Regions from separate parts of the Homo sapiens genome. Here region 2 is linked to region 1. Evidence: fine-mapped expression QTL. A gene starts in region 1. The other region holds a variant in brackets. All regions are shown on one strand. Distances are from middle to middle. Region 1 holds the start of RAB11FIP3 (RAB11 family interacting protein 3). Region 2 overlaps RAB11FIP3 (RAB11 family interacting protein 3).

Region 1 (5,364 bases):
TGGTGGCATACGCCTGTAATCCCAGCTACTCAGGAGGCTGAGGTAGGGGAATCACTTGAACCCGGGAGGCGGAGGTTGCAGTGACCAGAGATCGCGCCATTGCACTCCAGCCTGGGCGACAGAGTGAGACTCCATATCAAAAAAAAAAAAAAGATAATAAGGTGCTGCAGATCTGTGGTCTCAGCTACTGGAGAGGCTGAGGTGGGAGGATCTCTCTTCTATTTTTATTTTTTATTTTGGAGACGGAGTCTTGCTCTATCATCCAGGCTGGAGTGCAATGGTGCAATCTTGGCTCGCTGCAAGCTCTGCCTCCCGGGTTCACGCCTTTCTCCTGCCTCAGCCTCCCAAATAGCTGGGACTACAGGTGCCTGCCACCACACCTGGCTAATTTTTGTTTTTTTGTATTTTTAGTAGAGACGGGGTTTCACCGTGTTAGCCAGGATGGTCTCCATTTTCTGACCTCGTGATCCGCCCGCCTCAGCCTCCCACAGTCCTGGGATTACAGGCATGAGCTACCACACCTGGCCTAAGGTGGGAGGATCTCTTGAGCCTAGGAGGTTGAGGCTGCCGTGAGCTATGGTCGCACCACTGCACTGCAGCCTGGGCAACAGAGCAAAACCCTGTCTCGGGGAAAAAAAAGAAAAGAAAAGAAAAGAAGGAACTGCTACAGCCCACAGCCTACAAAGGGGACACAGATAGTAGCTCTGAACAGCAGACGGATAGACGGGAACTTGTCCCTTTAGTCTTTCATGAACAGCCTCTAACTGGTCCAGGCAGGGAGGTGCAGGCTTCCAGGCTGTGGTTCCATGGAGGACACCAGCCGGGCACGCAATGGACGTTTTCCAGCCCTAGCACAGACAGAGCGTGCGGGCCCCTGCTCTCAGAAAGCCAGCCTTCTGCCTCTGGCAGCGCCGGCACATAAAAGCAGAGGGAGCCTGCTGTCTCTGCCTCGCCCACACTAACACCCCTATTTAGAAAGGTTGACACATCACTATCACTGCTTCTGAAAATTTTATCCGGCCGAAGGCATCAGCCCAAATTTGAATTCTTGCCAAAGCTGCTGGTGATTTCGTTCTTTGAATGCAGTATCTTCCTCATGAACACGTACAGCTCTTACAAGAAAATGAGAATACGGTTTGGGGAGGAGGATCCCTCACATTCCTTTTCCTAATGCCAGCCTCGCGAAGTCTGGTCCCATGTACCCTGGGATTCTGCCACGGAAGATGACTCACTTAATTAACACGCTGCTCCTGACCGTACACTTGGAAGCAGAGGTTCCGTTCCTTTGGTTCTTGCCAAAGCTGCTTACGAAACCATATCTTGTGTTGGTGCCCATGGTGTGTAAAAATACAAGTTCATCATTTCCCTGATACAAATTATGACAGGCTAAATTTAGTGCCTCACCTGTCCTAACTAGCTTTCCCACCATCATGCCTGCCGCCGGGCTGTGGTCCTTTCTGAGGTCCCGTGTCCCTCTGAGGACAGGGACACCCAGACACAGAGGTCAGTTGTCAGACGCGGCCACGGTGCTCGGGAGGCTGGCTGCAGACGGGCGATTCACCCTGGGTGTCTTCTTGAGTCTTATTTTTTGTAGAGACGAGGTCTCGCTTTGGTGCTCAGGCTGGTCTCAATCTCCTGGGCGCAAGCGATCCTCCCGCTTGGGCGTGGGCCAGCGCGCCCGTCCCAACGCTGGGAGTCCCGGAGATCTTGGTCACAGGCTTAAGGGAAAGGCCTAGCGCGTGGCCGCGCGTGCCTCTGGTTTCAAGGGACATGGACTGCGTGTCTGGGGCCCCTCCGCACTCCGTGTCAGACCCTGCGTCCCCCGGGTCCGCGCGGGACCCGGGCAGGGCGTCGCCCTCTGCGGCGTCTGCGCCCCGCGAACCCTGGGGCACCTGCAACCCCTGGGCCGCGGAGCCAGGCGTGCGCCGCCTCCTGGTCTCATCAACGTGAGAACGCTTTACCCCCGAAGAGCTCAGCTCCTAGGGGGCTATGTCCCTTTGCGTCTCTCGCTCGCCAGGCGGTGCCGTTTACTCGACCGCACCATGCGTGGGTAGCGGTCGCGCCCGCTGGTAGCTGTGCGGCGGGAACACGTTCTAAGTAAGGCCTGACTCCGCGCGCCTCTTGCCAGGGACGTCACGTCACGCCTCCACTCGCAGCCTCGGAGCACCCCCGCGTCCCGCGCCCGAAGCTCGGGACCCCCGCTCTGGCGAAACGAGGAATATGACATACAGCAAAACACCCCTTCGCGGCCGCTGCACTGCCGCGACACACCCGGCGCCTGCCTCTACAGCAAGCCGGCGAGGGGCTGGGACCCCGCCGGGACGTGCTGACGTCAGGCCCGACGGGGGGCGGGGCCTGGGCGGCGGCGGCGTTAGTTCTCCGGGTACCTCAGGCGCCTCAGCCTCCTTAGTCTCCTCATCCTGCTTCACAGGCTCCGCGGCCTCCGGCCTCCTCGGCCCCCGTCCCCCGGCCTCCTCGGCCCCCGTCCCCCGCCATCCGCCGCCCGGATCCTCGCCGCCCTCCCTAGGCCGCCCCGCCGCCATGGGCCTGCGCCCGCCGCGCCGCCGGGCCGAGGGCAGCTGAGGCGCGGTGCGAAGATGGGCGAGGACAGAGCAGGGCCCGAGCGCCAGCCCCAGCAGCCCGGGCGCCCCGCGCGCGCCCGCCCGCGCCGCCGAGGGGATGCCCGCGCCCGCCGCCGCGCCCTGAGCGCCTTTGTCTGCCGCCCGCGCCCTTCCGCACCACTAGCCTCTCGGGAGCATGGCGTCGGCCCCGCCGGCCTCGCCCCCGGGCTCGGAGCCGCCGGGGCCCGACCCGGAGCCGGGCGGGCCGGACGGGCCGGGGGCGGCACAACTGGCTCCGGGCCCTGCGGAGCTACGCCTCGGAGCGCCCGTCGGCGGCCCCGACCCGCAGTCCCCGGGCCTGGATGAGCCTGCGCCCGGGGCCGCTGCAGATGGCGGGGCGCGTTGGAGCGCCGGGCCGGCCCCGGGGCTGGAGGGAGGCCCGCGAGACCCCGGGCCGTCCGCCCCGCCGCCGCGCTCCGGCCCGCGGGGGCAGCTTGCGAGCCCCGACGCCCCGGGCCCAGGGCCGCGCTCCGAAGCGCCGCTTCCAGAACTCGACCCGTTGTTCTCCTGGACTGAGGAGCCCGAGGAGTGTGGCCCCGCGAGCTGCCCGGAGAGCGCGCCTTTCCGCTTGCAGGGGTCCAGCAGCAGCCACCGAGCGCGGGGCGAGGTCGACGTCTTCTCTCCCTTCCCCGCGCCCACGGCGGGCGAGCTGGCGCTGGAGCAAGGTCCCGGGTCCCCGCCGCAGCCCTCGGACCTCAGCCAGACCCACCCCCTTCCGAGCGAGCCCGTGGGGAGTCAGGAGGACGGCCCCCGCCTCCGAGCCGTGTTCGATGCCCTGGACGGGGATGGGGACGGTTTCGTCCGCATCGAGGACTTCATCCAGTTTGCTACGGTCTACGGGGCAGAGCAGGTACGGAGCGGCCCGGGCCGGGGCGTGGGAACTGGGCAGGTGCGCGCTGGCCGGCGGGGTTGATGTGGGACCGGTCGACGCTGCCCCTGGAGTCGGGAAAGGCACTGTCAAGACCTGACGGTCCTGCTTTTTCTGCTTATTCACCACTTCGGCCCTGGATTTCTGGTTGAATTGCGCTGGAGTCCCTCTTCCCTTCTTAAAAGGAGGTTCTATTCTGGGGAGTCAGTTTCTTCCCCTCCCCCCAGCGCCTCGTCAGCTGGATCTTACCGAGGTCAGCTCCTCGCCTGGGGACACCCCCCCAGGGGGCCTGATCGCCACCCCCCCAGGGTGCCTGATCGACGTGCCCCTGAATGAAGAAGTTCCCCGCGATTCCCCCACCCGAGGGCCCAGATACTGCTCGGCTGAATTCACCCAAGTTCTAGCCGCAGAGGCCAGGCTGCCCAGACGCCTTGAGATCCTACTGATAGACACCTATTTTGAGTACAATTACTTTACTGTGTGTGGTTGACATCTTTTCTACTTAGATTTCATCTTTTATTTGGGAGACAGTCAATGCTTGTAGAGAGTCCTGGAATTAAGAATTTTTACTTTGGTGCCTTTGGGGAGGAAGGCAATGAGCCTCGGAGCTTGTTGGCAAATGCAGAAGTCTAGCAGAACTCCGTTAGGGCCACGTCCACTCTCGTAGGAGAGGTGAAATGCGTGGACAGGCACTACGCACAGTACAGTGTGGAAGGGGTCCACGCGGTCCTCAGGGCACCTGCTCCTGGGGGAAAGGTGGGCCCCAAGATGCAGTTGTTCCTGTCTACCTCAGCACTTAATAAAGTTTAAGTGGAGATAACAGCAGGGCCGTGTGTGTTCTGCCAATAACCCGGTGGACATCAAATAATACCAGTGCTCACTTTTAAATATTTTACTTAGCAGGAAATCCCTAAGGTGCATCTGTCAATTTTTTGTATTTTGACTTCTCACACATGCAGACATCTGGTAAGTGGGTGTTCAAGTACATATGCATGTTTAAGCCAAGAGGTCTGTAAGAAAAGAGGTAAAATTGGCACACTGCTATTTAGGGTGTCAGTCATAACATTAAGAACCTTGATGGTCGGGCGCGGTGGCTCATGCCTGTAATCCCAGCACTTTAGGAGGCCGAGGCGGGCGGATCACGAGGTCAGGAGATTGAGACCATCCTGGCTAATATGGTGAAACCCCGTCTCCACTAAAAAATACAAAAAAATTAGTCGGGCGTGGTGGCGGGCACCTGTACTCCTAGCTACTCGGGAGGCTGAGGCAGGAGAATGGCGTGAACCCGGGAGGCGGAGCTTGCAGTGAGCGGAGATCGCGCCACTGCACTCCAGCCTGGGCGACAGAGCGAGACTTCGTCTCAAAAAAAAAAAACAGCAACAAAACAAAAAACACAGGGTCCTGATAAATCAGGGTTCCTTGCTGAGTTCACATTAAGAAGATGTGCAGACAGGTGCGTGCGGGGCAGCCTGCAATGCTCGCAAGCTTAGCTCCGGTTGGGATATTGTCAGGGTAGTTTTCCACCTACACTAATGGGCAGTGAAATATGTGACTGATACTTTCCTGTATGGTCAGCGTGGATGGTGGTTGCTGGTCCAGGTGTTTTGCTGCGTTTCCTTCTTGCCCCTGGGCTGGAGAGCACCTTGAGCTCCCTTGGTTGCTGTTGGCTACTGCGCTGTCTCTTCTCCCAAACATACTCTTGCTTCAGTACAGCAAAGAAGTTAGGAGAGTACCACATTTGCTCCTTGTTACCATAACCCAACTCTTGATAGAGAACTTCTGTGAGGCTCAGGATGTTTCCACTGGATCATACCACAGTTCTCTGAGATAGTAGGTAAGCAGGATTCATCCCCACTTTACAGGTAAGAAACTGGA
Region 2 (5,364 bases), 76 kb after region 1:
TGAGGTAGGAGAACTGCTTGAACCCAGAAGGCAGAGGTTACAGTGAGCCCAGATCACGCCACTGCACTCTAGCCTGGGCGACAGAGCAAGACTGTCTCAAAAAAAAAAAAAAAAAAAAAAGCTCCATCTGCAGTTATCTGTCGTTAGAGTTTACAAAACAGAGACCTCTTCTGCAGTGTGTCTATCCACATGTAAATATATGTACACAAGATTTAATCTGTTGTTTTGCCCCAAATCTGCCACAAGAGGCTAAGGAAGAGCAAAATAAACGTCGCGATTCGCTTCTCACAGTTCTCAGCCCTTCGCGCTGAACTATTGCTGAGATGGTGGGTTTTGCCAGCAGCCATTGTAGCCCCCGGGCCTGGCTGCATTGCTCACCTCCCTCAGCCTTGTTCTGTCCCTGTCCATGAGATGGAAGTGGCTTTCTCCAGTCAGCTGTGTGTGCAGAGACCGGGGGCTCCGGGCAGAGCCGAGTCCATCAGGACTGGAGGAAGTGCTCACAGCAGGCAGGCTCCCTGGGCCCTGGGTGGGAGGCCTCAGGGATCCCCGTACCTCCTTGCTCACCAGCCAGGCTCGACCTACTGCCCTGTGGGGCAGGTCAGGCTTTTTCCACAGCTCCCTCTCTGGGAGGAGGGTCCTTCCAAGTGAGGGTGTGGTGTAGCTGGAGAATCCCTCTTTCTAGGGGATTTAAATAAGCAGCCCCAGCCGGACGCGGTGGTTCACGCCTGTACTCCCAGCACTTTGGGGGGCCGAGGCGCACAGATCACGAGGTCAGGAGTTTGAGACCAGCCTGGCCAACATAGTGAAACCCCATCTCTACTAAAAAAAACAATACAAAAAGTTAGCTGGGCATGGTGGCAGGTGCCTGTAATCCCAGCTACCTGGGAGGCTGAGGCAGGAGAATGGCTTGAACCCGGAAGGCAGAGGTTGCAGTGAGCTGAGATTGCACCACTGCACTCCAGCCCAGGTGACAGTGCAAGACTCTGTCGCAAAAAAAAAAAAAAAAAAAAAAAAAAAAATTAAATAAGTAAATAAATAAGCAGCCGCATGACCCATGCTGAGGACCCTCTGCCTCACGTTGGTGGCCACGTGTGGTGGCTGCACGCTGGGTGCCTGGGGATGGCTGTGTCCCCGAGTCAGCCCCAGAAGTGCCTACGCCTCTAGGACAGCTCAGAAGTGCTGACAGGTCGTGGCCTCTCAGGATGGGCTCTGGGTTGCAGCTTCATGCCTGGAGTGGCTCATGTTTGGGGGCAAGGTCATGGGCGTTTAAGAGCAGCGACTGGCCAAGAACATGATCTGTATCAGCAGCAGCTTTTGAGAATCTGATGAAATCCCCAGAGCCCCAGAAGGGCACCGGTGTGTTCCAGCTGGTGCACGTTCACAGGGCTTGTCTCCTCAGAGCGTTTATGGGGAAAAAGATGGAAATGTTCAAGCCCAGTCCGTACTGAGAAGCAAATCGAACTTCATACACTTGGTAGACATTTTCAGTGGAAAAATATTAACATTTTATGGAATTCTTACTCTGCTACGTCCCTAGCCAAGCTGTTTGTATGCATGACCTTGGTTAAACCTCAGTTGCCTCTAGACCCCCATTTCATAGGCAAGGAAGCTGGGAGAGGGTCCCCCCATTTCATAGGCAAGGAAACTCGGAGAGGGTCCCCCCATTTCATAGGCAAGGAAGCTCGGAGAGGGTCTCCCATTTCATAGGCAAGGAAGCTGGGAGAGGGTCCCCCCATTTCATAGGCAAGGAAGCTCGGAGAGGATCCCCCCATTTCATAGGCAAGGAAGCTGGGAGAGGGTCCCCCCATTTCATAGGCAAGGAAGCTCGGAGAGGGTCCCCCATTTCACAGGCAAGGAAGCTGGGAGAGGGTCCCCCATTTCATAGGCAAGGAAGCTGGGAGAGGGTCCCCCCATTTCACAGGCAAGGAAGCTGGGAGAGGGTCCCCCCATTTCACAGACAAGTTCAGAGAGGCTCCCCCCATTTCATAGGCAGGGAAGCTGGGAGAGGGTCCCCCCATTTCACAGACAAGTTCGGAGAAGGTCCCCCATTTCATAGGCAAGGAAGCTGGGAGAGGGTCCCCCCATTTCACAGGCAAGGAAGTTCAGAGAGGGTCCCCCCATTTCACAGACAAGGAAGTTCGGAGAGGATCCCCCATTTCATAGGCAAGGAAGCTGGGAGATGGTCCCCCCATTTTATAGGCAAGGAGTCTGGGAGAGTGTCCCCCCATTTCATAGGCAAGGAGGCTGGGAGAGGGTCCCCCCATTTCATAGGCAAGGAGGCTGGGAGAGGGTCCCCCCATTTCATAGGCAAGGAAGCTCGGAGAGGGCCAGTGCTTTTTAACGGTCACGCAGTTCTGAGCATCAGGCTGTCAGCCTGGAGCCTGGCTTGGTACTGAGGTTCCCAGGATGTATAAAGAACTGAACACGCACCTTTGCTGTTGGCTCTTCTGTGCGAGTGCTCTGAGAGTTTTCTGTACTCCCGGCAAGTTTGGGTTGGTACAGATTCACCACAGCGAATCTGACCACGTGGTGACCACAAGCACGCGCTTACTGCGCGCCTAAGTTCACACTCCCTGGAGAAGCTCCTGCCCCAAGGCCGCAGCCTATGGGCCTTTGCGTCTACTCAGGACCATGAGGCTGTGTCCCCGAGCCTGGCCCGGGTAGTAACTGGCATGGCCTGCGGTGCTGGGGGCGTGTCCACAGGAGCTGGTGCCACAGAGGACACGTGTGTCTGCTGTCTTCCTGGACTC[G/A]GTCGGACCAGTTTCCCAGTGTGTCCGTGAGGGTGACACTGAGTGAGACTTCTGGGATCCACACCTTTCCTGGGACCCTCACTCTTCCTGCCACAGAAAGCACCTGTGAAAGTCTGAGATCAAGAATGTGCACAGGGGAGGTGTCTGCAGGTCAAGGTCCTGAGCTGATGTCTCACAGGCCTCTGGTAGAGACGAGATTGTTCGTGTCTCTGCGAAGAAGGGCATGTTTTATTGCAGCCAAGTACAAAGTCCTCTCTGCCACTCGCTGGCTGGGACTGAGGTCATGTTCTGTCAGGTTCCAAAGAGCGCCAGGAAGACTCTGAGACCACAGAGCACGGCCTGCTTTCTCCCAGCCCCTGGTAAAGATGTCCAGCCTGGGACCTCCCCCTGTATATAGTGCTTTAAGTGGGAGAAGACCACCACCCAGATCAGGGGAGGACCTGTCCCCTGCAATGCTGCTGCCTGCTTTTCAGATTGACTTGGGAGTGCTTGTGCTGACGGAGCATGTCCTGTGGTTTTTCCCTTTCTTCCCTCTGTTGTTGTGCCTTTTCTGTAGGTACCTGCACCAGTCAGGGGCCCTGACCATGGAGGCCCTGGAGGACCCTTCCCCCGAGCTCATGGAGGGCCCAGAGGAGGACATTGCTGACAAGGTAGGCCCTGGAGGGCTGGGTAGGTGGCAAGTAGGGGATTTAGAACACAGCCACGCCTAAGGGCCGCTGCAGACACCCCGGGAGGTGGGGACAGCACAGCCGGAGGTGACCCCATGTCCTCCAGGGCTCCCCAGACTGTCCATCCAGCCCCGATGCTCTTTGGCAGGTTTCCCCAAGGGGTCTCGTGGCCATGTGAGAAAAAGGAGTCTTCCTGTTGTGCACGAAGGGCCAGCTGGGAGGAGTGGACTGGGCAGTGAGTGAGCACCCTCGGGTATCCCACCCCCACTGTGTCTGAGTCGGGCTGGGGGACACCCAGACATTCAGTCCACCAGGCCCATGGAGACGCGACCTGGGGCACCCATGATTTGGGAGAAAAGGGCTGGCCCTGCAGTTACTGCAGAGCCAACAGCCTGAGGAACGGGCTTCTCCTGGGGCCTTGAATGGAATGGGTGACAGCAGCCAGGGCAAGGCAGCCTTGCCGTGGTCAAGACCCGCTTTTCAGCCAGATGTGGTGGCTCACGCCTGGAATCCCAGCACATTAGGAGGCCTAGGCGGGCAGATCACTTGAGGTCAGGAGTTTGAGATCAGCCTGGCCAACATAGTGAAAACCCGTCTCTACTAAAAATACAAAAGTTAGCCACGCATGGTGGCGGGCAACTGTAATCCCAGCTATTTGGGAGGCTGAGGCAGGAGAATCACTTGAACCTGGGAGGTGGAGGTTGCAGTGAGCCGAGATTGCACGACTGCACTCCAGCCTGGGCGACAGAGGGAGACTCCGTCTCACCTTCTGCACCCCCTCACCTTCTGTGACCCCTTCACTTACTCCTGTACCCCCTCAATTCCTCCTGTACCCCTCATCTCCTCCTGTACCCCCTCACCACCTCCTGTACCCCCTCACCACCTCCTGTACCCCCTCACTACCTCCTGTACCCCCTCACTACCTCCTGTACCCCCTCACCTCCTCCTGTACCCCCTCACCTCCTTGTGTACCCCCTCACCTCCTGTACCCCCTCACCTCCTCCTGTACCCCCCCACCTCCTCCTGTACCCCCTCACCTCCTCTTGCACTCCCATCTCCTCCTGTACCCCCTCACCTCCTTGTGCACCCCCTCACCTCCTGTACCCCCTCACCTCCTCCTGTACCCCCTCACCTCCTCCTGTACCCCCTCACCTCCTCCTGTACCCCCCTCACCTCCTCCTGTACCCCCTCACCTCCTCCTGCACTCCCATCTCCTCCTGTACCCCCTTACCTCCTTGTGCACCCCTCACCTCCTGTACCCCCTCACCTCCTCCTGTACCCCCCTCACCTCTTCCTGCACTCCCATCTCCTCCTGTACCCCCTCACCTCCTTGTGCACCCCTCACCTCCTGTACCCCCTCACCTCCTCCTGTACCCCCCTCACCTCTTCCTGTACCCCCTCACCTCCTCCTGCACTCCCATCTCCTCCTGTACCCCCTCACCTCCTTGTGCACCCCTCACCTCCTGTACCCCCTCACCTCCTCCTGTACCCCCCTCACCTCTTCCTGTACCCTTCACTTCCTCCTGTACCCCCTCACCTCCTCCTGCACCCCCCTTACCTCCTGTACCCCCTCACCTCCTCCTGTACCGCCTCACCTCCTCCTATACCCCCTCACCTCCTCCTATACCCCCTCACCTCTTCCTGCACCCTCCTCACCTCCTCCTGCACCCCCATCTCCTCCTGTACCCCCCTCACCTCCTGTACCCCCTCATCTCCTGTACCCCCTTACCTCCTCCTGCACCCCTCACCTCCTGTACCCCCTCACCTCCTCCTGCTCCCCCACCTCCTCCTATACCCCCATCTCCTCCTGTACTCTCTCACCTCCTCCTGTACCTCCTCACCTCCTCCTGTACTTCACCTCCTCTTGCATCCCCACCACCTCCTCCCTACAACTTCTCTAGCATCTCAAGTCTGCTGACCCAGGCCAAGTCCTCCTCTGCTCCCTT

The links. PIP is the estimated chance that this variant, and not a neighbour inherited with it, causes the effect. A credible set is the group of variants that fine-mapping cannot tell apart.
Region 2: its variant is the best candidate, but not a certain one, in a credible set for the expression of RAB11FIP3 in whole blood (TOPMed, PIP 0.59).

What each region holds. Positions count from the first base shown.
Region 1 is chr16:423,250-428,613 of GRCh38, forward strand. RAB11FIP3 (RAB11 family interacting protein 3) reads left to right here and starts at 2,400. Exons shown (of 14, transcript NM_014700.4): 1 at 2,400-3,471. The coding sequence starts at 2,758.
Region 2 is chr16:499,698-505,061 of GRCh38, forward strand. It overlaps RAB11FIP3 (RAB11 family interacting protein 3), which reads left to right. Exons shown (of 14, transcript NM_014700.4): 7 at 3,307-3,400. Among named protein-coding and RNA genes, the nearest start is that of LINC00235, 25 kb to the right of the region's middle. The variant G/A (reference allele first, on the strand shown) is at 2,751.